4 linked regions of the Homo sapiens genome follow. The protein of the gene in region 1 interacts with the protein of each later gene in a pairwise test. Each region holds a gene or a part of one and is shown in the gene's direction. Other genes may lie near its edges. The genes, in order: OTX1, WWOX, ZNF330 and CPT2.

Region 1 (4,534 bases):
CATAGAGAGGGGCAGCCCTCGAATCTTGGAGACACTGGCTTCTAGTCGCACATCTGCACTTTCTCCCACCTGTGGCCTCTCAGGCTCGGCCGCCCGAGGGAGTTTCTTTTATTCCCAGTTCGGCTTTCTTTTGCGAAGGCCGAGATCTGGGCCTGCCAGGGGCCTGCCCGAGTCCTCTATCGCGGGTCCACGTGGCCACCAATGACCCGCGGCGCCCCCGCGTGTCCCCGCAGCCACTCCGCGGAAGCAGCGGCGGGAGCGCACCACCTTCACGCGTTCACAGCTGGACGTGCTCGAGGCGCTCTTCGCCAAGACTCGCTACCCTGACATCTTCATGCGGGAGGAGGTGGCGCTCAAGATCAACCTGCCGGAGTCTAGAGTCCAGGTGCGCACTCCCCGGGCTCCAGGGTCTGGGTAGGGGAGCTGAGGCTGCTCGGGGAAGGTCTAGGAAGGCTCTTGAGTAGTTCTTGAGGAGACCATCCTGTGGGGGTGGGCTTACAGACTGGGCAGCCGCTCTCGGACTCCCCCTAGCGCTGGGCCCCAGCCAGGAAAGGGGGCAAAAGTTAAAGGAAATGGCTTAGAGCCCTGGATTCCGCCTTTAGCCCTAGGGCGCCTTCGGTGTCGGTATCGAAAGTACTTTTTAGAATTGCCGGAGGACTAGGGAAGCTCCCGAATGTAAAGCGCCCTGCGGGCCTGACACTTGCCCCTGCTTCTTCGCCTGCCCCAGGACTTGGCAGTTTCCCTTAGAGGCCTGAATTCTGCCTCTGCCCTTGTCTTCCACCCCGGGAATCCTAGAAATGGAAGAGCGGAGATTGGCTGGAGCCTGGTGCTCTGCCTGGGTCTCATTAGACGCTTCCTCTGCTTACAGAGGATGCTAAGTGCAAAATCCTGCTGCCGGCTTTCTTATTTCTGTTTTTGAGATGAAAGGGTTCCGATGATAACGTTCGGATTCTAACTCAGAACTCTCCTCAAGAGTCTCGCCTCCTTTACTCGAAAGCTTGAGAAGGGGGACCAGGAATGCAGTGCCATGTGCTGGGGCTCTCCTAGAAGAGTAACCATTCCATTTGGTTCCCCACCTGGAGCCAAAGGGCCAACGAAATCCCACCCAGGCTTCCTTCCCGAGTCCCTCAAGTACTACCTCTGTTTAGCCTCTGGCCTTGCTCCTACCCCCACCCAAATACTCGCCCTGCCCAGTTCTGGCCTCCAGGAGCTGCTCAGTGAAACGGCTCAGGCCCTAGACTTGGTGACTGTTCCACACTCTTCGGCTCTGTACCTCTCCACTGTTGCCTGAGCTCTGTTAGTAGAAAACTGGGCCTCCAAACACACACGGGGCCTCCAAACATACACGGAAGCAGCCAACAGCAGCAATTTAGAGATGGCAGAACTTCTGACTGGGCAGACTGAAATATTCCGCCCTAGGGCAGAGTTGCGGTAGGGGTGGGGAGGTGCGCATCCCTGCTCTGGAGCCAGCTGAGGAGGGGCTTTGAGCAGAAGGATGGGGGAGGGTGGAGGAGCTGGGAACCGAGGTAGGGGGCAGGGTCTGGCCAGGCCAGAGACAGGAAGGGGCGGAGGCCTCGGTGAGAAAGGATTGCGATATTCTGGACCGGGAGTTGGGTCCGCGGGGCGGTGGAGCAACAAGCTCCCCTAGCTCCCTTTGACCCACTCTCCCCCATCCGGCCCACTGCAGGTCTGGTTCAAGAACCGCCGCGCCAAATGCCGCCAGCAGCAGCAGAGCGGGAGCGGAACCAAGAGCCGCCCAGCCAAGAAGAAGTCCTCTCCAGTGCGGGAGAGCTCGGGCTCCGAAAGCAGTGGCCAATTCACGCCGCCAGCTGTGTCCAGCTCTGCCTCGTCCTCTAGCTCGGCGTCCAGCTCTTCCGCCAACCCAGCGGCTGCAGCGGCTGCGGGACTAGGTGGGAACCCGGTGGCGGCCGCGTCGTCGCTGAGTACACCAGCTGCCTCATCTATCTGGAGCCCGGCCTCCATCTCGCCAGGCTCAGCGCCCGCGTCCGTGTCGGTGCCGGAGCCATTGGCCGCGCCTAGCAACACCTCGTGTATGCAGCGCTCCGTAGCTGCAGGCGCCGCCACCGCAGCAGCCTCTTATCCCATGTCCTACGGCCAGGGCGGCAGCTACGGCCAAGGCTACCCTACGCCCTCCTCTTCCTACTTTGGCGGCGTGGACTGCAGCTCATACCTAGCGCCCATGCACTCACATCACCACCCGCACCAGCTCAGCCCCATGGCACCCTCCTCCATGGCGGGCCACCATCATCACCACCCACATGCGCACCACCCGTTGAGCCAGTCCTCAGGCCACCACCACCACCATCACCACCACCACCACCAAGGCTACGGTGGCTCTGGGCTTGCCTTCAACTCTGCCGACTGCTTGGATTACAAGGAGCCTGGCGCCGCTGCTGCTTCCTCCGCCTGGAAACTCAACTTCAACTCCCCCGACTGTCTGGACTATAAGGACCAAGCCTCATGGCGGTTCCAGGTCTTGTGAGCCCAGGAATGAAAGAGGAGAAGAAACGCAACTACCTGCGCCCTCCGTGGTCCCGATCCTGTTGCTGCTGCTGCACCGCCCGCCTTTGCCTCGTCTTCTCCAAAACTGAATTTTCACCCCCCAAAAAGATGTCCATTGCCTGCACTGCCGCCCCCATTTTTGTGCCACTTGCTTGGGGGGATGTGCAAACCCACCCTGCCCCTTGGATGGGGGGACCGGTGCTTCGGCTTGGCCTACACATTCTATACAGGAGAGATGTATTATTTCCCCCCTTCAGCCCCTACTAAACTCTTAAGCCTCCCCTTCCAGTCTTTCTGGACAGCTATTAAGCACTTGCAGCCTTCGGAGGCTCTGCGCTCTGATCCGCTGTTTGAGCCCAACACTTTAATTTATTCTTTCTGGACACTGGAGTCACTAACTGGCGTGTTTCTGCCCATTGGAGCACCCGCACACTACTCCAAATCAAAACCACTAAGAGTTCCTCCCGCGCAGACTGCTGCCCCTTCAGCTGCCCTCGATTTTGCTCCACGCCTGCCGGCCAGAGCCTCCCGGCGTTTCTTCCGCCCCAGCGGAGTGCGCTGGGGCGCGCCAGGGCTAGGCCCGCCGGAGGAGCGCGTCCCCAGCCTTCCGCGCACAGAGCCGCATCCCGCCCCGCCCTGCGCTGGACTGGTTCAAGCTTCCGCCTCGGCGGGAACGCTGTACATAGTCAGGTCCGTTCCAGGGACCACTTAAACTTTTTAGTTGCTGTTGGTTGGTTGAACTGAACATATCTTGTCTTAGCACCCAGGAAACAGAACTTTAAGATATATACAGCACATATATATATATATACATATATATATACACATATATAAAAAACAAAAGCAAAAAATATTTTCCCTCTGTCCGTCCCCCTTCTGCTCTTCCTCAATCAATGGCGCTTTTTCTTTTTCAGTTGTTGCAAAGCTGCCCTGCCCTCTTCACATCTTCTCCCTCTGTGTATTTATTGAAGAGAACCGCTTGGTTTCAGGAAGCTGGGCGCGGGATATCCGAAGTGTGGAGGAAACAGACAAGTCAGGGTACAGAGGTGGGGGTTGGGCAGGGGCGCAGGGCTGACCCCCTCACCCGGTCTAAGCACAGGGTCGCAGTTCCAGTTTACAAACCTAAAACAAGAAAACCAAAACCAGGGAACAAAACAACAAAACAAAACAAAATCCGTAAAAGTACAGCATTAGGGAAAAACAAACAAACCCAGGCCCCAAACCCAGTTCCAACTCCTCTGTCGGCTTCTCTCTTTCAACACCCTTGTTTTGTCTAGTGAGTTTTTAGTGCACCTTCGTTCTCCGAAATCTGCGGAGAGCCCGCGCGCCTGTGTATCAATTTTGGCTTTGGCCGCTTCGTCCAGTAGGTGGGAAAGTAATTTGTAAATTTGATTTGTCTGATGTGAAGATCACAAATTACTTGTTGAAATGTAAGGCAGTCCCCCTCCTCCTCTTTATCTACATTACTTCCCGAAAATAAATGCAAATTAATGAACGGCTTGTCAGTGTTGCTCTTCTGATTCCAGCCCGAGGTCCTGGTCTCGGGGGGCTAAAAGCGAGGGAAACTCCGTGTTAATAACCCGCGTGTTAATGACCTGCGTGAAGCTGGAGGCCAAAGGATGAGGCGGGAGGACTTGGCAAGAGAAGTCCCCAGAAACTTTCGCTTAGGGAGTGTCTCCCCCCACCCCCACCACGCCCCTCCGCGTCAGCCTGGCCTCTTCCCCCAGGCGTTTTGACCCCGCATCCCCCCTCGCCATCCAGGACAGAGACAGGTGTCAGGACTCAATTCCCGAAGCAATTCCTTTCTCTTCAGAGGCAGGAGCCTGGCACTGATTTCTTCACCCTAATTGCCTGCACCAGAAAGAAGAGGGGGAGGGGAAGAGGGTCGGGAGGCGGGAAAGGATAGCTCTGTAATGCTCTCAGAGCTGAGCCAAAAAGGAAAAGAAAGCAAAACGACAAAAAACTGATCCGTGTCCTGCATGTTGGCAGCAGACAACCTTCCTTGCTGCTG
Region 2 (7,032 bases), on another chromosome or scaffold:
AGTTGGAACATGTGACGAAAGCCAGTTGATGTGACAACTGCTGGGTGGGAGGGACAGGCTTGGGGGCGGGGCTGGGAGGGCTCCTTCCCTTCCTGACCCAGGGATGGTCTTTACTTCTCCCTGGCACCTGTAGACCTGTCTTTCTTGTGTTTCAGATTTGCCATACGGATGGGAACAAGAAACTGATGAGAACGGACAAGTGTTTTTTGTTGAGTAAGTGTCTGCAAAGAAACCACTCTCAGCTGTTTTGCTTTTTAATAGGAATTTTTAATTATAAAAGTAATACATAGTAACTGTAGAAAAATACAAAGTATAACAGTGTGTATCTGTAATCTTAGCAGAAGTGACTACTTTTAACATCGCTGGAACTTTTAACATCGCTAGATTTATTCTTCTATTTTCCCCGCACACGCATCCTTAAAAAAAAAAAGTAGGGAGGCCAGGCATGGTGGCTCATGCCTGTAATCCCAGCACTTTGGGAGGTCGAAGTGGGTGGATCCTGAGGTCAAGAGATCGAGACCATTCTGGCCAACATGGTGAAACTCCGTCTCTACTAAAAATATAAAAATGAGCTGGGTGTGGTGGCACGTGCCTGTGGTCCCTGCTACTCGGGAGGGTAAGGCGGGAGAATCACTTGAACCCAGGAGGCGGAAGTTGCAGTGAGCTGAGATCGCGCCACTGCACTCCAGCCTGGGTGACAGAATGAGACTCCTTCTCAAAAAAAAAAAAAAAAAAAAAAGAGGGAATGCACTGTGTGGACTGTTTAGTAACCTGCTTTTTCCATGTAATATATTATGAGCATTTTCTTGTATCCATATCTATTTTTCAAAAAGATGCTATTTAGCAGCTCTAGAGTTATTATTTTGTACAGATATACTATAATTTATCAAATTGCCTATTGGACATTAATGCTAAATTCCTGTTATAGAGAACCTATAATTATAAATAATGTATTGAGCATCCTTATCTGTAAGACTTTTTCACCTCTCTGATTCTGTCTTTAGGATAAATTCCGGTATCACGCAGCAATAGTAACCACCTGTCCAACATATAGCATGAGCCAGGCCTGATTCTAATCATCTTGTATCTGTAGCATTAGGTCATTGGATCCCCACAGTGCCCTGAGAGGTAGTATTGTTATTATCCCTAGCTTACTGCCAGTGACACAGACTTGAGGGGGTAAGTGACTTGTTAAGGATCCCACAGCAAAGAAGTAGCACAGCCAGGCTTTGAGCCCAGCACCTGCTCCAGGGACTGTACTCTTGACCACCGTAGTTAAGAGGAGAATTAATGTTTCACAACTGTCAACATTTAAATTAGAAGCTTGAATAGTCTTTGACAGGATTAGGATTGGTTGGTTAATAGAAGTTGATTTGAGCAGGAATTTTTTTTTTTTTTAAAGTTATGAATGTAACATAAACGTTTCAGTATTTGATTCAAGTACACCAACATTTAGGGGTCGGGCCAGCCCTCCTCTGAGTGTGAGTCCACTTGCATGGATCCAGTGTGGTCTTCCTTCCCCTAAGCATGCCTGTAACATAACATCTACAATTTCTACTTTCATTTTATGTGGGCGAAAGAGTACCTAGGTGCCGAGGCAAGAGACTGAAGGCACAAACTGTTTCAGTATAATAAAGAAAGTAGTTAGAATAAGAATAGTCATAATACAGGTTAGATATGGAGATGATCATGGACAATTATCAATCATTACTATAAACACTATTAATCATTAGCTTTTAATATTACTCTTTGTGGCATTACTAACATAACCTAGGAATAACTGGCATGTATAGGCTCAGGTGCTAAAGGGACATTGTGAGAAGTGACCTAGAAGGCAAGAGGTGAGCCTTCTGTCACACCCGCATAAGGGCTGCTTGAGGGCTCCTTGGTCAAGCGGTAACGCCAGTGTCTGGGAAGACACCCGTTACTTAGCAGACCGCGAAAGGGAGTCTCCTTTCCTTGGAGGAGTCAGGGAACACTCTGCTCCACCAGCTTCTTGTGGAAGGCTGGGTATTATCCAGGCCTGCCCACAGTCATCCGGAGGCCTAAACCCCTCCCTGTGGTGCTGTGTTTCAATGGTCACGTACGTTGTCCGCTTTCATGCTCCTCCCGTACTCCTGGTTCCTCTTTGAAGTACGTAGTAGATAGTGGTAGAAGAAATGGTGAAAGTTTTAAAGTCTTTGATCTTTCTTTTAAGGGCAGAAAAGAAAATGCTGACGTATGCTGCCTTCTCTCTCTGCTTCGGCTACCTAAAAGGGAAGGGCCCTCTATCCTGTAATCACGTGACTTGCTTCACCTTGTCAATCACTTAGAAGATTCACCCTCCTTACCCTGCCCCCTTGTCTTGTATGCGATAAATATCAGCGTGCCCAGCCGTTCGGGGCCACTACCGGTCTCCACATCTTGGTGGTAGTGGCCCCCACCCTGGGCCCAGCTGTTTTCTCCTTATCTCTTTGTCTTGTGTCTTTATTTATTACAATCCCTCGTCTCTGCACACGGGGAGAACACCCGCTAAGCCCAGTAGGGCTGGACCCTACAACTTTAAGGTTGAGCAAACACAGTATTTTCAAAGAATCTGATTGCTACATCATTTGGGAGTTTTATGGTATTTTTCTAGCATTTTCACTGTAGTTGATTGAACCAAAACTTTTTTTTTAGCTGCTTGTCTTTGAGGCTCTCCAAAGCATTCGACCACATTTTCATAGATACCACTGACACTATTTTTCACCTCCCATGTTATCAGTTTGTGTAATAGTAGCTTGCTGGTAATGTAGTTACAGTAACAAGTTCAAATGACATGTGTGTTTTTTGAGCAAACCTGGTGAACTTTTGGTGCAAAACTGATATTGAGAGCAAATAGGCCAAAGCTTGCTTGAGAGAAGTCTCCCAGGCCACCATAGGCAGCCCCAGGAAGACGGGGCTGTCTAGCAGTTGGATAGGTGGGAGTGCCTATTATTTGTTAAAAGGCTTTTTGCCTAACTTGTGAAAGTTTTTTTTCCTCAACTAATTAAGGGTATCAACGCATTGGTTGTATGTTGAAAATGTTGAAAATGTTTTTTTTTTTTTTCCAAGTTTTCTTTCTTTTTTTTTTTTTATACTGGGTCTTGCTCTTCTTATCCAGGGCTGAGGTGCAGTGACACAGTCACAGCTCGCTGCAGCCTCAACCTCCTGGACTCAAGTGATCCTCCTGCCTCAGCCTTCTGAGGAGCTGGGACTACAGGCTCATGCTGCCATGCCCAGCTAATTTTTAAAGACTTTTTTTTTGTAGAGACTGAGGCTCAGTATGTTGCCCAGGCTGGTCTTGAACTTCTGGCCTTCAGCGATCCTCCTGCCTTGACTTCCCAAAGCATTCATATTACAGGCATGAGCGACCACACCTGACTGAATTTCTTAAATTTTTTATGTAGTCAAATCAATTTTCTCCTGTGCAGTCTTTGCCTTTGCATTCACGCTTGGAAAGTTACTCCCTGAAATGGGTATTAATCAACCAAGAGCAGCAGTTCTCAGGCATGGTTCCTGGACCAGCAGCATTAATATCACCTGGGAATTCAATAAAAATGTACATTCCCAGGCCCCCACCCCAGACCTACTGAATCAGCACTGGGGTGGGGCTTGCAATCTGCGCTCTAATAGTCATCCAGGGGATCCTGATGTTCCCTAGCTTGAGAGCCTCCCGTCTAGAGCAGGGGCTGTCTCCTTTGCCTGTAAAGGGCTAGATAATATGTTTTAGGATTTGCAGGGCATATGGTTTCTGTTGCAATGATTCAACTCTGCCTTTGTAGTGCTAAAGCAGCTATACACAATATACAAGTGATGGGCGTTGTTGTGTTCCAATAAAACTTTATTTACAGAAACAGGCAGTGGGCCAGATTTGGCCAGCTCCTGGTCTAATCTAGAGGAGTAAGCAAGGGCTTTGGGGGGAACCTGGAAATTGGCTCCCCTGGCTAGTTCTCACTTTTCTGAGCCTGTTGCAGTGGGGTGCTGGTAAATGTTTAGCACCAGGTCTTCAGGGGGAAAAAAGCCACTGTTTGTTTCCACAGTATAAATACTTTGGCCATAGCTGATTTCATGCTGCCAAGGTGAAGTGAGGAATTGGGAAGAGATAGTCACGTTTGGCTCTTGTAAGCCAGTTTGAGCCAGTCTAGCATAGAACTGCTCTGTTGTGTGTGTATAATATTGGGGTCACAAATTAAGGTTGTTATAAATAGAATGAGGATGAGGATGGTAATAATTAGAATAAAGGTTGGATTATTACTCTTGAGTCTTGGTACTTATAGGGAGATGAGTATATATTTTAAACTAATTTTACACACACATACTTTTAAAATATGAAATTTCATCTATATTTAGAGGCTTCTTAATAGTTTTTAAGATATTCTGAGGTCTTTATCTCATATCCCAAGAATACATTTAAGATATAAAAAGTAAATTCTATTATAAGGAGTACTCTTTTCATCCATATGTGCCTTTTTTTTTTTTTTTTTTTTAATGGTTACCCAGGGTCTTGGTCTGTCACCCAGGCTAGAGTGCAGTGGCACAATCATGGCTCACTGCAGCTTTGATCTCTTAGGCTCACGTGATCATCCTCCTACCTCAGCCTCCCAAGTAGCTGCGACTACAGGCGTGTGCTATCACACTTGAAATTTTGTTTAGTGTTTGTAGAGATGAGGTCTAACTATGTTGCCCAGGCTGGTCTTGAACTCCTGGGCTCAAGTGGTCCTCTTGCCTTGGCCTCCCAAATTGCCGAGATTACAGGCGTGAGCCACTGTGCCCAGCCTCCAGTATATTTTAATACCATTTCTACAAGATTTAGATCAATTCCAAATCAAAATGAGTGCTCGTAGGAGGTATGAGTGCAGAGTCTTAAAATGAAAATCGTTAGAATTTTGGTAGTTGGCAGGTTTCTTATTTACAACTAAGACTTTATCATTTTGAGTTTTCTACTTCTCTACGTCTTTAGGCCCTTGCACAGGGCTAAGAGATTTAATTGAAATCTACTGAAAAGAGTGGCTGACAGATCTTATAGCTACATTTACATGAATTACATAAAAGCCCAAAACCTTCTCAAGAAGCCTTTTTTGAGATCTAAGGATACATGGCAATAGTTATTGTATGTTACAGCGTATGTTATAGGCAGTTCTGAAGGAAAGGATTCGATGACTATCTTTTTTTGGCACAAATGTGATCCTTCTGGAGGCCAGAAGATAGATTCAGTGGGCCCCAGTTCTTTCAGGTTTAAGGAATAAGCATTTTGGTCTATGAAAAATGGGGTTTTCCTAAAGTATAAGATTGTCTTATATTTATAAATGCCTGTGTTCATTGCTGTGGGTTCACTGCTTTCTCTTTTGGGCAGCCATATAAATAAAAGAACCACCTACTTGGACCCAAGACTGGCGTTTACTGTGGATGATAATCCGACCAAGCCAACCACCCGGCAAAGATACGACGGCAGCACCACTGCCATGGAAATTCTCCAGGGCCGGGATTTCACTGGCAAAGTGGTTGTGGTCACTGGAGCTAATTCAGGAATAGGTAGGCTCTTCACTTAGTTATTTATCTTTGGGACTGCTATAATGAGATCCACTTAGATCTAGCTATAATGGAATTTTGTTTAGTGGTTCTCTGATTTAAACATGACTTTTATCCTTTTCAGATATCGTTTCATTAACATCACTACCTCTTTTTAAATCCTAATGTTGTCATGGAAGCCTGTGTAGGGGCTGACCTTGAAGTCTCTGAAAGCTGAACACTCAGCAAAAGACTGTGGCTATTTTGGTATTCAGGGATGAGAGACAACAGGCTCCGTCTAAGAGTTTTTGACCTGGTCTGCATGGTGTATGGGCATATTCCAATTACCTGGGTTATTCAAACCAAAATTGATTGGTAATAGAATACGGGGAACAACAAGGTATTATGTCTTTGGAACAAAGGATACTACAGGTTTCGACTGGTCACTGAGCATATCATTTTCTTTTGGGCACAGGATCTTATTTCTCTATAAAATTGGAGAATGAGTTCCTGTCTTCACCTCTTAATTGCCAATGTTTACCCACAGGGACTATCATGGGTAGATGGCTCAAGAGGGTATCCTTGCTTCAATATGATGGGCCATTAAGGAGACAGGAGCAAGGCGGGAGCAAACCATAACTCTTCATAGGATTTTATTCTGATTTTGCTTTGATCTATTTACATAAGTATCTGAATCAGTGAGAACCACCTGCTTTGAGTTTAGATATGCATCTTCAGATTTGTCGACATATGAAACGTTGCATTTGGCTGTCTTCTGTCAAGTTCTCTCTGTCCTTTTGGTCCCCCGCAGCCCTCACACGGCCCCCTTGATGCCCTCCTCTACTCATTTGTTTCTCTTTCCTAATTTTGTTTTTATTTTTATTTTTTGTGGGTATATAAAGGTGTCTATATTTATGGGGTTCATGAGATGTTTTGATACAGGGATGCAATGTGAAATAGTCACATCATGGAGAATGGGGTATCCATCCCCTCAAGAATTTATCCTTTGAGTGATAAACAATTCAGTTATACCCTTTTAGATATTTTACAATGTGCAATTAAGTTATTATTAACTATAATCAACTTGTTGTGCTATCAAATAGTAGGTCTTATTCTTTCTTTCTATCTTTTTTGTACCCATTAACCATCTGCACTTCTTTCTTAATTTTGAACAATTCCTTGAAGCTGCAGAAATATTTTCTAGCATGATTAGGGAGGCACAGGAGGTAAAAATACATTGTTCAAGGGTCAATTATTGTGTTGTACAAGGTGTGAAATCTACCAGGTTGCCATCCGAGTGGAGAATTTTTTTACTGTACTTGCCTATGAAGGTAAAGAAGCAAATGGAAATTTTTTTTTAAGAATTGAAAGGATTTTATTTCAAATCAACTCTCATACCTCATCCTGGGCTCCAAATATGTTCAATCCACTTGTCTGAACTTCTGCATTGGAGTAAATTTTATATAATTGTCATTGAAGTCAAAACTGATGGCGTAATATTTAAAACAATGGCTGGATCCCCAA
Region 3 (7,032 bases), on another chromosome or scaffold:
AGTGTTCGAATAAGTAAAGACATGGAGAAGAGAGAATATAAGACATATTTGGAGAATGGCTGACCATTAGTGACTTGAGTCTAAAAAGAATAGGCCAAGAAGGTTTGGAAAGTGATTAGGGGCCAGATTGTGGAGAGCTTTTAAAACCATGTTTAGGAATCTGGATTTTCTGTGAACTTTATTATTTTGTATTCTCTTTGGAACGGTGCCTTAGATAAATGCATTATTTTAAGGGTCACCCACTTCATTTGGAATAATATGTGCTTAACGTTTCATAAGGCTTAGAATGTACTTAACTATCAAAAGGATAGTTCTTGTGTTCATTCTGTGGTATTTTATTCCTTACAAACAATTGAAAAAGAAACTACCAATGTATTTAGCCTCCTTTGTGATAATGCCACTTCTTCAGGGAATCATATACCCGGAGTATCACTCTCGCATACCTTTGTTATTTTAAGCATGGGTAGGTGCTTGTATACATGGGTGGAGTTGGGGCTTTGGTGTAGTGTCACTTAAATTTTAACCTGAAAAGCAGGTTATTCTTTGTAATACAAGTAAATTTGCAGTTTTCAGTCAGCAGAAAAATTAATGTGATATTTTTATATGTTACAGGAATGTGACAAGTGTCAGAGGTAAATTTTATTTCTTTTTCTATCTACCTTTAATAAAATTGTCCCTCTGACTTTTTATCTGACATTGACCATAATTTAAAATTTTATTTTACATGACAAGGCGGCAGAAGAATAGAGCATTTTGCTACTTTTGTAATTCTGTACAGAAGTTACCAATTTGTGCACAGTGTGGTAAGTTTGTAATAATTAAGGACATATGCTTTTTATCAACTGGTAGTTCAACAATTTGAACTTGGGTGGGTTTGTTGCTATTGGTTACAGTGCTTACAATTGTTGATAATATTATGCCTTACCATTAACAAAATAACAAAACATGTTATTTTGCCTACCAAAAAACTATCAAGCCTTGGTTTTGTCTCTTTGATGTAATGCTGGAAAATAATTAAGGTACAATTTAGATACAGGTTACCAATAAGTGTTTTTAAACAGTGAAAGATCAGATTTCAGACATAACATTTGGTGATCCTGAACTTTTAGTTATACTACCTTAGTCTTGTCAGTATCTGTTTGTTTACTTATCTACATTTTGATTCCTGCTGATATTACCTGCAGTGTGTTAGACCATTGGGAATAATTTTATTCCACATTTACCTGGTACTTATTTTGTGATCAGTAGTTTTTGTGTTTGATGCTTACCATATGATTCATGAGTTTCCTCACATGTATTCCCAGGTGATTTAAATAGAGTTCTTAAGTCATGTGCCCGGTTCTTAAGTATAGGTGGAGACTTGTACCCCAAAATGATTATACAAAATAAAACTAAATGTTAGCAAGATGGGTGTTTCCCAAATAGTCTTCCACAGACTTCCTGAAATATTAATGGATATTTCTTGAAAAATATATATCGATATACATTTGAGAAATACTGCATGCATCCTCCTTTCATTCTCATCTGGGAGATTTCTATTATATATTTATATGTTAGAAGTTCTGAAGACTTGCAACAAAGAAACCCAATTAACTTTATTACTCTAGATTTACATCCCCCCCCAACTTTTGATGAACAAGTATTGCTTTTATTTATGAGATAATAATAATAATTTCAGGTAGAACAATTTGGGGTATGCTCATTTAAGTGTGTTTATATGTAATAATATTCCAGAAAGTTAGTAGTGTTTAGGGCTATATCCCTGAATATTTCTAATGTAGTTCTAGCTTTCAAAGAAGATCTTTTCAATTCCACAATTAATGAAAAAGAGAAAACTGGCCTATATGGAACACTCATATGGTAGTTTTCATAGCCTTGTTTTGCAAAAAGTAATGAATGTAGAGTGAGGAAACAGAGTTTGTGGAAGATTAATAGGTAAGTTCTTGCTAGGACTTACCCCTATTTTCAGTGTCTCTGGGCTTAAATTTTGTAGTGTTGTTAGATGGATACATTTCTCATTTACTGATTCTTAGTGTTGGACATGGAACAGTTGGGTAGCTGCTGCCTCTCATTTCCAGTTTCTCTTCCCATTTCCTACTAACTTTGTTCCTTAGGAAATCAAGATAACGGAAAATTGTTTCTTTTGTGTTCCATTTTGTGGAGTCTCAGATGGATGATTAATGTCATCATTAACTCTCACATAATATCTGATAAGCAAATTTCCTGATAGTGTTTTGAGTTGGTAATTTAATTTGCTTCTAGATCAGAGGTTTAGTGGCTGTGTGGTGATTTGTAGCTGTATCACCGTATTGTTTATTGTGCTTATTTGGGCACTATTTCAAAATTTTGTTGGGAAAATGTTTAACTGGGGGCTTCGTTGTAAATTTTTATGTTTGGATAAAATTACATTAACTCGATAAGTTACATAATCATTATTTGGTTTGGTTTGAGGTATTATTCTGTGGAAAGAAATAACTTCAAACCACAGTTTTTATTGTGAATTATAAAATGTAAAATTTGTTATAAAAAGCATTCCTTTAAAAATTGTTTTGAATAATCTGAAGATTGATAAGTTTTTAAACTGTTAAAATGATCATTAGATTACAAAGCATAACCTGCAATTTCTGATTTAGTACAAATTAGCATATATATTGTATAGTTCATTTTACAGATTTATTAGTAAATGTATAATCTGAAAAGTCTGATTCGAGTAATGAAGTCTCAGTTATATCCATTTTCTCTTTCTAGTTATGTAAGCAGTAAATACTGATTCAATTTCATTAGTTTTTAAATTATTTCCTCAGGAACTTGGGCTGGATAAAAGGAGGAATTCGTGAGTACTGGTATGTATTCCTTTGCAAGACTAACAGTGCAAATGTTTTTCTTCATTAGGGAAAACAAAGTGCATGATGAAGTCTTCAGACTGTGTCATAAAGCATGCTGGTGTATACAGTACTGGCCTTGCAATGGTGGTAAGCTTCTTATTATCTCTTAGACTAGTACGTTTTCAAGGATAAGAAAATGTCATTCTGATCAGTGGTTATTTTTTTCTAAATATCATTGCTTTGTCCCTTGTTTCAATCAATCTGTAGTTATCTGGATTATGAGTGGCATGCTTTTTGTATGATTTTCCCTTAGTACCCACTTGTTTCTAGCTGCTTCTTTCTTTCTTATTAGGGAACATACAAGGCATGGAAACTTTTCATGCTGATCTAAACAGAATTTCATTTCTCAGTGGTACCTTTTTTTTTTTAAATTTTATTATTATTATTATACTTTAAGTTTTAGGGTACATGTGCACAACATGCAGGTTTGTTACATATGTATACATGTGCCATGTTGGTGTGGTGCACCCATTAACTCGTCATTTAGCATTAGGTATATCTCCTAATGCTATCCCTCCCCCATCCCCCCACCCCACAACAGTCCCCGGTTTGTGGTGTGTGATGTTCCCCTTCCTGTGTCCATGTGTTCTCATTGTTCAGTTCCCACCTATGAGTGAGAACATGCGGTGTTTGGTTTTTTGTCCTTGCGATAGTTTGCTAAGAATGATGGATTCCAGCTTCATCCGTGTCTCTACAAAGGACATGAACTCATCATTTTTTATGGCTGTATAGTATTCCATGGTGTATATGTGCCACATTTTCTTAATCCAGTCTATCATTGTTGGACATTTGGGTTGGTTCCAAGTCTTTGCTATTGTGAATAGTGCCACAATAAACATACGTGTGCATTTGTCTTTATAGCAGCATGATTTATAATCCTTTGGGTATATACTCAGTGGTACCTTTCTAATATCTCTTAACCAGACTTCACAAAACAGTATTTAGTGTACCGAAAGCCCTGCTTAACCAACGTTTAAGCCTTTGGTTAAATAAGCAACTTAGTTCCAAACGAACCTAGGATAATAGTGTTCTTTAAAACTTTACATTTCAAAAAAGTGTATATATTTAACATACCTCTTCATTACATATAGGATTTTTTAAAGTAAATTCAGCTTTTTGAATAATAAAACCAACTGGATTATGTGATGTATTTTGCTCTTTTTCCTGAAACATGTTTTCCTTCTAAATATGAGTTAACCAGTTTTACTGTATTGCAGTATGATTTTATGTTCAAATAAAATTTTGTTCAAATTTTAATCTATGAGGAAAATGATACTATATTTATGTCAAATGGAATATTTTATTTATGGTAAATTTCCAAGAACATGTAAACTTCTATTATGAGGGAGACCTATGATATATTTCATATGTGCATATATTATAGAAGCAAGGAGCGAGAATTATCATCTTGTGAATTGCTCTTTATTTTAAGTATAGGATTGTCAAGTTATCTTTATTCAAAAACACTTTCAGTCTTCCTTGGTAGCTTAAGTTCAGCCAAATTCATTTTTTAAAATCACTGTTTTTTGAATGTGAATAATTTCTTCTTACATAAAGAAAACATTTAAGTAGAGTCATATATCTTTAGTTGTAAATTCTAGAAAAGTGATTTTCTGGATATCTTCTATTTGCCTCCCCAGATTCCCCCTGAGAATAGCAGGAGAATAAGATCTGGGTGTTTATTCCTTCATCTCACTCCGTACCAGGTTATCCTGGTTTGGTTTTATCCTTTCTCTAAGGACCACAGTTCTCCCTATATGGCCAGGTAGTCCTCTCCTGTTTGTCCTAAGAACTTCCCTGTCCTCTGCAAATTATCTCTTTAAAACTCTTCTAGATTACCTAGTTTGAGAGTACCATCTCTTTTTTGCAAGAACCCTGGCTGATCCAAGAGATATAGTTGATGATTTGCTAGCTATACTGATAACCCATTTTTGCAAGTCAAAAAACATTCTTCCTATTTGTTGTTTACTACATTTGTTTCAGAGCCTTGAATAATAGAATACTGAATTGAGATTCTGAAATCCTGGCTTTAAATCTCACCTCACCTGTAATCCAACTCGGGACTTGGATTTAGTCTTGGGCCCCATGCTTTTCCTTTATAAAGGAAAGATTGTCTGATCCTACTCTCTTAAGATTCTTTCTAGCTTTTAATATTTGGTAGGTGTCAATGTTTTATTGAAACATATTGTTATTGTCTTTTCTTGATATAGAATTGGAGAATCTTACCCTGTATTTTAGTTCCATATATTTTACTTCAAATTTTTTCCACAAAGAAATGTAATTATTATTAAAACATAAGTTGTCATAAGAGAAAAAAAGAAGCTGGCAGAAGTTTCGTATTTCTCAGTAATTCTAGAAAAGCTATGCAAATATATAGATAAGAAGGTATTTTAAAAATCAGAAATGGTAGTATTTAAAAATTCAGTGTAGTTACAGGAATTATTATAGACAAGAAAGCTTAAGCTGTTGGTTCCTTCAAACTTTATTTGAATTAAATTCATTTTGAGGAAAATACTTCCATCTCTTTGGCTTAATTAAATAATATTAGGATAAGTGTACAGTTTACCTTTTTTTCTTTTGATATGTAACTGAGTTTTGTATATTGTGGATAGCTGTTAAGAAGTTGTTTTTCAGAGAACCCTTTTTATTTTTGGCTTAGAGTGAGTAGTAAAATGTTTAAATGAAGCGGCCTACTATCATTGAGGGTTGATAAATTGCTAAATGTATACAGTTTTGATGGTTGCCGTGGTTAAAGAATGGTTGCAGGTGGTCAGGTGATAATGATTATGTATTCTTGTTCCTTGGTTACAGGGTGCAATATGTGACTTCTGTGAAGCTTGGGTTTGCCATGGTAGGAAATGTCTCAGTACACATGCTTGTGCCTGCCCTCTTACCGATGCTGAGTGTGTTGAATGTGAACGAGGCGTGTGGGACCATGGTGAGTCATTAGACACAAGTAATGAGCTTTGTTATAGGTGAATGTTGACTTTGAAACATTTTGAATGCTGTTTTTGAGATTTTTTTCAGGATACTGTCAATCCTAACTACTGGTACTGTTTTGATTATCAGTGTAGTTAGAGAAGGGATCTATACTGTCTGTTATTGTCAATGCTAGTATTGTTTACCCAAACATGGAGGGAAGTTGTGGTGGAGCAGGTAGTCTCTTTGAGCATTGTGAGTGTTATATGGGTAGCTAGTGGAGAGTAAGAGCCCCCTTTTCTCAGTTTCAGTTCAGTTTCAAGGACTTCAACAGTTTTCATTTTAGCTTTTATCAGAATAAAAATGGCTGAACAATTTTGGTGTATCTCCAAAGTAACTTACCATCTCTTCTAAGCAGTATTATAGATATGAGTTTTTTTAAATTAAAGTTTATCTTAATTACATTTGTGTTTTTTTAATCCAATAGGAGGCAGAATATTCAGTTGTTCTTTTTGCCATAACTTTCTCTGTGAAGATGATCAATTTGAGCATCAAGCCAGCTGCCAGGTTTTAGAGGCAGAAACATTTAAATGTAAGTTTTTAAGTATTAGATGTTCTTTATACCCAAGATTCTGAATAGTATAATTATTAATCTTAATGAAAAAGGAATCAAGTTTTTTTATACTGCTTCTCATGAACTGTAATTTAACTCAGTCTTTATTTTCTGTTTCTAGAAAACAGAACAGTCAGAATATAGTTGTAAATTTTTCAGCAGGGATGCCAGTGGCATATTGGTTGGGCCAGTTTTTCATTTTGTAGGCTTGATTTGATCAGGCATTGCAGGACTTACACCTTTCGTGGTTCAGAGTACCACATGTCATTTTTACCTTCAAATTATTATAAAAAACCAAACCTCACCCTTCCTTCCCATTTCCAAATGCCCTCCCGTAAGAGATACCACCCTGTTTGTTTCTGCTAGTTGGTTCTAGTGATTCTTAGACAGGACTGTATATCAAAAATACCTGTGGAGGTTTTAAAAATAATGTAGATGTCCAGGCCTCATCCCTGGAGATTCTATCTTTTAAGTCCGTGGTGGGTGCCAGGCACCTGTATTTAACCTATACACAAAATTCTCACGTATTTTCCAGTTGAGAGCCAGCATTGCTGACTGGGTAATAGTATCATCTTTACACATAGTTTTTTTCTTGGAAGGTTCATTGAAATGAGA
Region 4 (7,731 bases), on another chromosome or scaffold:
CCAACATGGTGAAACCCAGTCTCTACTAAAAATACAAGAATTAGCCAGATGTGGTGGCCTGCGCCTGCAATCCCAGCTACTCAGAAGGCTTAGGCAGGAGAATCACTTGAACCTGGGAGGCAGAGGTTGCAGTGAGCCAAGATCCCACCACTGCACTCCAGCCTGGGCAAGACAGTGAGACCATATCAAAAAAAAAAAAAAAAAAAAGAAAAAAAAGAAAAAGAAAAAGAAAAAGAAAAAAAGAAAGAAGAAAAGAAAAGAAAGGAAAGGAAAAAAGAAAAGAAAAGAGGTTTAATTGACTCATGGTTCCACAGGCTGTACAGGAAGCATGGCTGGGGAGGCCTCAGGAAACTTACAATCACGGCAGAAGATGAAGGGGAAGCAGGCATGTCTTACATGGCTGGAGGAGGAAGGAGAGAGAGTGAAGGAGGAGGTGCTACACACTTTAAACAACCAGATCTCATGAGAACTCACTCACTATCAAGAGAACAGCAAGGGGGAAATCTGCCCCCATGATCCAAACCGTGTCACCTGCCTGTATTATCTCTGTGTGTGTGTGTGTGTGTGTGTGTGTGTGTGTGTGTGTGTGTGTGTGTGTGTGTGTGATGGGGTCTCACTCTGTCACCCAGGCTAGAGGAGCATGATCATAGCTCACTCACTGCAGCCTCAAATTTGAGGGATCCTCCTGGGCTCAAGCTATCCTCCTGCCTTAGCCTCCCAAGTAGCTAGGACTGTGCCTAGCTAAAATACCAAACTCTTGATTTCAGCTCCTTTTGTCATCATTTGTCCATTTCTTCTACAATCTTAAATTTTTTTGACTGGGGTTTCTATGTTGCTGAATTTGGTGACATTTTCACTAACCCAGAACACACACACACACACACACACACACACACACACACACAGCCCCATTAAAGTTCTTTCCTTCAATGAAATTGGCAAAGGGGCATAAAGAAAACTGGAACCTAAGGACCCAGTGAGGAAGCAAAGTTCCACTTTCCACTGGAAACTGGTCTTTTACAATAATCCCATTGCACCTAGGAGCTGGACCAGGCTGTTATTTTAGAGTTTAAAAGTTGTCCTCCCTTCTTCTACCTGGCTACTGGCTTGGGGCTTTAGGTGGGTGAGGCCTACCTCCACAAGAAAAATCCACAGTGAAAATGGTGACAGTTGGAGGGTGCTGGAGTTGAGCTTAGCCTTCCTCACTTCAGAAGAGCTAAATGCATACAGGAGTGCAACAGAAGTCAGGAATCTATTGCCAGAGGGGCCAGAGAGGGGCAAGGGCCTTCCTGCTCTAGGGCCCTTCCCCAGAAGATGTTAGCTATGGGTCAAGTCTCTACCTCCTCCCCAACCCCCATTCTCCATTGCATCCTTGGAACCAGGAGCCCAGAAACCTGCCAGCCCAGATGACCAGGACCATGTTTGAGATGCATAAATTTGGTCCTCTGGATCCTTCAAAAGTACACTGTATTTGTCACTCCCCGTAGACCCTCATGCAATAAGTTCTTCATGCTCTGTACATCGATTCTTTTTCTCCAGCAGTTCTGAGCAATGCTTCAAAAACGAAACATCAGATTCCTTGTAAAGTTAAAAGGAACAGATTTTTTTCCCACATACCATGAATTTCTCATTGATTGGTTTAGTTACAATATCTAATGTGTCCACAGGTATGTTTTAAAAGTTCCTTTATGGGGCAGAGAGAGCATTTTTTTAATACTCTGGTTTCACTTTTTTGCATTTAAATACTTTCTCACATACTCAATATTTATAAAAGGGTTAGAGTTCATTTTAACAAATCCCATTAAATAGGCAGGGCTTTTCAAGGTCTTGCCTATGAATTTCCTCATTTCAAGCACTGTTTAGTCCAGGTAAGCTCCAATAGAACCTGAGAACTTGGGACTGCCAGGCCAACTCTAGGTACTAGTTCCTGACATTTCTTTGAATATTTGGGTGGTCACATTTGTTTTCTTTGGTCATACTTACCCAACTGGACCTCTTTTTTGTTGAAATGTGAACTCTACTGCTAGCCAGTTAAAGTTCATTGTTTTTCAGAACTTTGATTTTGAAGATGAATATGACTTTAACCTGGCCATCATGTACTGCTTTTTCATAGTTAATTCAAAACAGAGCAGAACTCTGGGGATTAGTTCAATAGAAACAATGTATTCTTCAGGATCTTTCTCTAAGTAGAGGAACTTTCTTGACCCTTACACAGCAATATATGGACTTTTTGGACTACCAGCTCATGGTTATTCTTAATGTGATCCAGACCCCAGGGCCATCCCCAGGAAAAGGAAGCAAAGCACCTCCCCACAGTAGGCCTGTGCTAGACACAGTGGACACACAGTGGAAACAAGGTCCCTGCCCAAAGACCTCAAAATTTATTGTGAGAGATGAATTGGTAATTAAATAGCTGATTATTTTAAAAGCCCTAATACAGTTGTGTTTCATGTACATAACTGTAAATGAATGTAAAAAGTGCTGTAAAATCACAGTGGGAGGGATTCATTCTTGCAGTGAGGAAGAAGGATGAGGATTGAGGAAGACTTCAAAGAGGTGAGTTTTGAAATAGGGTTTGAAGGACAAGTAAGAGTTTACTAGGCAGAGATGCATGGAAAGAACATTCCAGGCAGCAGAGACAGCTAAAATAAATAAATAAATAAGTCGCAGAGTAAGGAAAAGGATGGGAATGAGAAGTGGTTCAGTGTTACTACAGCATAGAGCAAGCTTGTCCAACCCACAGCTCAGGATGGCTTTGAATGAGGCCAACACAAATTAGTAAACTTTATTAAAATATGAGATATTTTTACAATTTTGTTTTGTTTTTGCTTATTAGCTATCATTAGTATTAGTGTATTTTATGTGTGGCCCAAGACAATTCTTCTTCCAGTGTGGCTCAGGGAAGTCAAAAGATTGGACACCCCTGGCATAGAGTATTTTGGGGTGACATGATGGGAGCTGGAGAAGTAGGTAGGGGTCAGAATTCAGAAGGCCTTGGACACCAGCCTAAAGGCTTAGAGTTGCTCCCATTGGCCATGCACTCACCAAAGGTGTTCACGTCCCTCTTTTGGCTGTTAGATTGGATGGGCTCAATCTTTTGGCCCTCTGTCTCTAGAATAGAGCCGCTGCTTTTCTACTGGGCCCACTATTTCTTCCTGGTCCTCTGATCCCCTTAGCACTACACAGATCTCGATATTTGCCTCGGGTATCAAGGCTCTGAAAATGATCAGGATTTAGAGGAGATGGCTCATTTTCAGAAAGAGTTTTATATTCTCCCTCTGGCCTTATACACTACAGGCAAATGGCACCGATGTTTTGGAGTTGGGCCAGTTGGGCCTTTTCTCCCCTCAAGAGAGGAGGATTCGATATTCAGTGTTTCTGAATTTCATGCTTAGTTCTTAAGCCATTTCCCATTTGCCCTAAGAAATAAGAGCTGGCAGCAAGCTGCGCTGTTTTTTTCTAAACGGGAAATGGGTTAAGCATTTGTGATCACCACTGAATGAGTGCCAGAGCTGGTTAGTGATCTTCCTGTTCAATCCGAGGTCACCTAACTAGATAACAAAGAGCTGAAACTAAAAGTCCGGTCTCCTGACTCCCAATCCAGTACTCTTTCTGGTGTGCTCCAGCTTCTGGCTCTGCTTAGCCAATTATGGAACAGACAGAATGTACTTGGCTGCCCCAAACGGCTAAAGGGCAGTTCTGTTCCCAAAATGGAATTCTGTTGTGCCTCAAGCTAGGCAGCATAATTGTGTGTCTTTTGGTAACTCCCTGTCTTCTTCTGTAAAATGGGAGTAGAGCCTACTTAATCCTGCAGCTACTTCTAAGATCAGGGATTGGGGCGTGGTGGGCTGTTCTGCAGCTGTTTTGTGATGGATGAGGGATGATAGATCTATGTTCAAGTAGCGGAATCTTAGAGTCAGGAGTTGGAAGGAATCTTGGAGGTGGTCTGTGGTGACAGGAAGCCTCTTCCAATAGACTGAACACGGAAGACTTCCTAGAGCCGGAGGACAAGGGTTTCTTTCCTCTTAGCAGTGAGCTTCTTGTTTTTGGAAATGCTCAAGCCAAGAATGGATGTTCAGGCAGAGGGGATTCCGCTCGGAAGGGGCTTTCTGCACTGAAGTGGTGGCCAGCGGGAAACTCCAGGTTTCCAACTCCTGCACAAATCCTTTCTAATATCCATCCACTCAGGTGAGCTGGCAGGGCAGTAGCTGTGCAGGGTTCAGGGTCATTATATGTCAATGACCTTCAGCACGGATTACTAACAACAGTAACATCCGTTACCGTTTACTGCTTTCCTATTAAGCACCATGCACTGTGCATAACATGTTATCTTTATCTCATATCTAGAATTTTGGGAGGTACTTTGAATCATTACGATCTATCTACTTCTTAGGTGAGGAAATAGAGGTTTAAAATTTAGTCCACAGTCTCGCAAGGATGGAGCCTGGATCAAATTTTGGGTTATCAGATTCCAATCACGTTTCTTAGCTTTTCTTTTTTTTTTCCAACTCCAGTTTCTGTCTTGCTCCAAAAAAGGGGAAGGAGCGGCTGCGGCGCTCGGTTTCCCGCCTCCTAGGGAAGGGAAGGGAGACGAGCAGCGCGGAGGCTGGGGCCCCCTTCCGGGCGGGGCCTACTAGTGGGCGGGGCCTGTCAGTGAGCGGCCCCTGCCCGGAAGGAGCCAGTCCGGGGCGGAGCCGATGGCCTTACAGGGGCCGGAAGTGGCCTGCGGGCGGAGAAGTGCCTCAGGAGTCCTGACGCAGTGTCTTGGGCGCTAACGGCGGCGGCGGCCTTGTGTTTAGACTCCAGAACTCCCCACTTGCCGCGTTCTCGCCGCCGCAGGCTCCCGGGACGATGGTGCCCCGCCTGCTGCTGCGCGCCTGGCCCCGGGGCCCCGCGGTTGGTCCGGGAGCCCCCAGTCGGCCCCTCAGCGCCGGCTCCGGGCCCGGCCAGTACCTGCAGCGCAGCATCGTGCCCACCATGCACTACCAGGACAGCCTGCCCAGGTGAGCCTGGCCTCCGGGTCCCCGCCGCCCGCCGCCGTCCCAGGATCGGCCCCAACCTGACTGCAGTCACTCATGACTCCTCTAGTGAACCCGTTTCCGCCCCCAAGCCCCTACCATGGAGGCTGCCACAGCCCCTAATCTGGAAGTCTTGGGACTTTTCACAATCTCCTAGCACAGGAACCTCAGAACCCTCAAATTCTCTTCCAGAACCCCTCGATGCTATCTCAGATTCTCCATCTTGAACGCTTCTCAGATTCCCTCTCCTTTAACCTAACTTCCAGCCAGCTATCCTGAGTCCTCTTCTCCCTGAAAAATGCCAGACCTGCATATTTCCAGCGCCGCTGTAATCCCTCGACTATGGTGTCTCCTGAAGTACTTTAATGACTGCCTCACATTCCTACCCGGAATATGGGTAGGCTGATTCCTAATACATCATGGTTACCATTCCTTAACTTCTCCCAGCACCGCCTTCACCCCTGTCACTCAGGACCCTCAGCCCCACCTCCCATTTCTCCAGTACTCTGTTCTTTCACCCCCCATGAGCCCCCACAAGCACAGCCCTGAAGTGTTCACCCTTGTCCTCAACTGACCCTCCCCCATGTTTTTAAATCTTTAATCTCCTAAATCCAGTGTTCACCCGGAAACCTTTCACTCTCTCCAAGCCCTCCTCAACAGGTTCCTCCCCTCAAAATATCCTTCCTCACCCACAGTACCCCTTGTAAGTGCAGCTCACCCTCACAGAATTCTAGACACCACCCTCAGTACCCCATCCACACTCCATCATACTCAGATCCAGGGTCCACCCAAATTTCTCTTCTCCTCCTCACCACTGGCTACCCTGCCTTCGAAACACTTCACCCAGAATCGACTTCCCCTCTGAAAAGAGCCCTAGTAAATCCTCTTCCCCTTCCCTCCCCCAGTACTTTCTTAAATCCAGCTTCCAGTTCTTCCAGCCTTCGAACTCCGCTTTCGTCTGAGTTGCCAGATCTCCTTCTTCAATATTAGAAATTTTCTTCACCCTCTAAACCAAACCTAAACTAACTTCTAACTTACTGAGTGAGTAACTCAGTTCCTGGAGCCAAGTTCAAAATTTGTCTCAAAGACCCTTCTCACCTTATTTCTCACCAAACTGCCCTCAGGGATTCCCCACACTCCAAGAGCTAGAGGCCAGGCTTCTTCCCCATGTGTGGAACATTGTGTCACAGGCCTCACCCGAGCTGCTGGGTTGTTTTTCTCTGCATCTGGGACCACTTAACCCAACGTCATCACTACATACCCTCACCCTCTCAGGAGGATCGAGTGATTCTTGTGAAATTACATTTTGTGCAAACATCTAAGACATGAAAATGAGATTATCTACACGTGGCAGGAGGGAGGAAGAAAAAGGGGCTTTGTGCCTGTGGCATAAGCCTGGTACATGCTTCCACCCTGTCAACCTGTGTGTATGAGCTGAGCCAGTATATGGGTGAAAGGTGAGGACTGACAGAACCTGTCTTCACTTGCCAAGTTCAGAGTCAGATGGTCACTGACTTTCAGGCAGGCCTGGGCCCCACCCAGGTTTAAGATCAGAGGGATTTTCTGCACTTTAGAATTGGAAAGCTGGAAAGAATATTCAAGATTATTTATTCCAACCCCATCCATAGCACAGTCTGTAGGAATCTGGAGGTACCAATTCAAACTCCAGTTCAAATAGTACCACTAGTCACCTACGCATAACCTTAAGCAACCAACCTCCCCCAGACCTCCATTACCTTATTTGTAAATTGGGAGTTAGATGAGAGATGAGATTCCTTCTGTCGCTCAGATTCTAGACTGGTAAAATGTATAATCTTTCACACTCACTCATTGATGTCACACTTGGTGAAAAGCCCTGACTTTGAGGTCTGGTAGAATGTAGTTGCAGATTCTGGATCTGCAAGTCTTTAGCTATAATTTGGGGCAATTCTGTTCACTTCATTGAGCCACAGTTTTATTTTGGTTTTTTTGAGACAGTCTCGCTCTGTTGCCCAGGCTGGAGTGCAGTGGCCCTATCTCGGCTCACTGCAACTTCTGCCTCCCGGGTTCAAAGGATCCTCCCGCCTCAGCCTCCCAAGTAGCTGGGATTACAAGCATGTGCCACCACACCCAGCTAATTTTTGTATTTTTAGTAGAGATGGAGTTTCACCATGTTGGCCAGGCTGGTCTCAATCTCCTGACCTCAAGTGATCTGCTCTTGGCCTCCCATCTGGGACCACAGGCATGCACCATCATGCCTGGCTGATTTTTTGTATCTTTTATAGAGACAGGGTTTCGCCATGTTGCCCAGGCTGGTCTTGAACTCCTGGACTCGAGCAATCTGCCTGCCTCGGCCTCCCAAAGTGCTGGGATTACAGGTGTGAACCACCGTGCCCAGCTTCACTCCAGAAATTTTTAAGTAGGACTTTTTTAAATCAAATTGCCATTGTCTCTAATCTAGAATTTTGTTTAAAAGGAAGAAGGTAAACTTTCATGAATATTCCTACTGTAATAAAACTAAATCTTAAACATATGTAGGCAACTGGAATTATGAGGTAGCTGAGATAGTATTTGGAATTTTTCTGAGTAAGTCAGTGAATGTAAGGGGATCTGTGGTGTTAAAGTGTTGTAAATGGGTACTTAGTGCAGTCTAAGTCCATAATGGCAGTAAATAATTGATTTATTTTTGTCATATTATGGATAAACATGCATTACAAATAAACTGATGAACCAC

Evidence for each region.
Region 2: the proteins of OTX1 (region 1) and WWOX interact in binary tests that used the Homo sapiens proteins (3 or more experiments, as listed by UniProt).
Region 3: the proteins of OTX1 (region 1) and ZNF330 interact in binary tests that used the Homo sapiens proteins (3 or more experiments, as listed by UniProt).
Region 4: the proteins of OTX1 (region 1) and CPT2 interact in binary tests that used the Homo sapiens proteins (3 or more experiments, as listed by UniProt).

Annotation. Positions count from the first base shown.
Region 1 is NC_000002.12:63,053,814-63,058,347, forward strand, and holds the end of OTX1 (homeobox protein OTX1), read left to right. Parts: intron 1-118; exon of another isoform or gene 119-233; coding exon 234-385; intron 386-1,687; coding exon 1,688-2,503; 3' UTR 2,504-4,018; downstream 4,019-4,534. UniProt on the Homo sapiens protein: Probably plays a role in the development of the brain and the sense organs. Can bind to the BCD target sequence (BTS): 5'-TCTAATCCC-3'.
Region 2 is NC_000016.10:78,109,623-78,116,654, forward strand, and holds part of WWOX (WW domain-containing oxidoreductase), read left to right. Parts: intron 1-155; coding exon 156-213; intron 214-5,353; coding exon 5,354-5,532; intron 5,533-7,032. UniProt on the Homo sapiens protein: Putative oxidoreductase. Acts as a tumor suppressor and plays a role in apoptosis. Required for normal bone development. May function synergistically with p53/TP53 to control genotoxic stress-induced cell death.
Region 3 is NC_000004.12:141,223,875-141,230,906, forward strand, and holds part of ZNF330 (zinc finger protein 330), read left to right. Parts: intron 1-612; coding exon 613-632; intron 633-732; coding exon 733-803; intron 804-2,892; coding exon 2,893-2,972; intron 2,973-5,696; coding exon 5,697-5,823; intron 5,824-6,291; coding exon 6,292-6,396; intron 6,397-7,032.
Region 4 is NC_000001.11:53,192,093-53,199,823, forward strand, and holds the start of CPT2 (carnitine O-palmitoyltransferase 2, mitochondrial isoform 1 precursor), read left to right. Parts: upstream 1-4,731; 5' UTR 4,732-4,851; coding exon 4,852-5,003; intron 5,004-7,731. UniProt on the Homo sapiens protein: Involved in the intramitochondrial synthesis of acylcarnitines from accumulated acyl-CoA metabolites.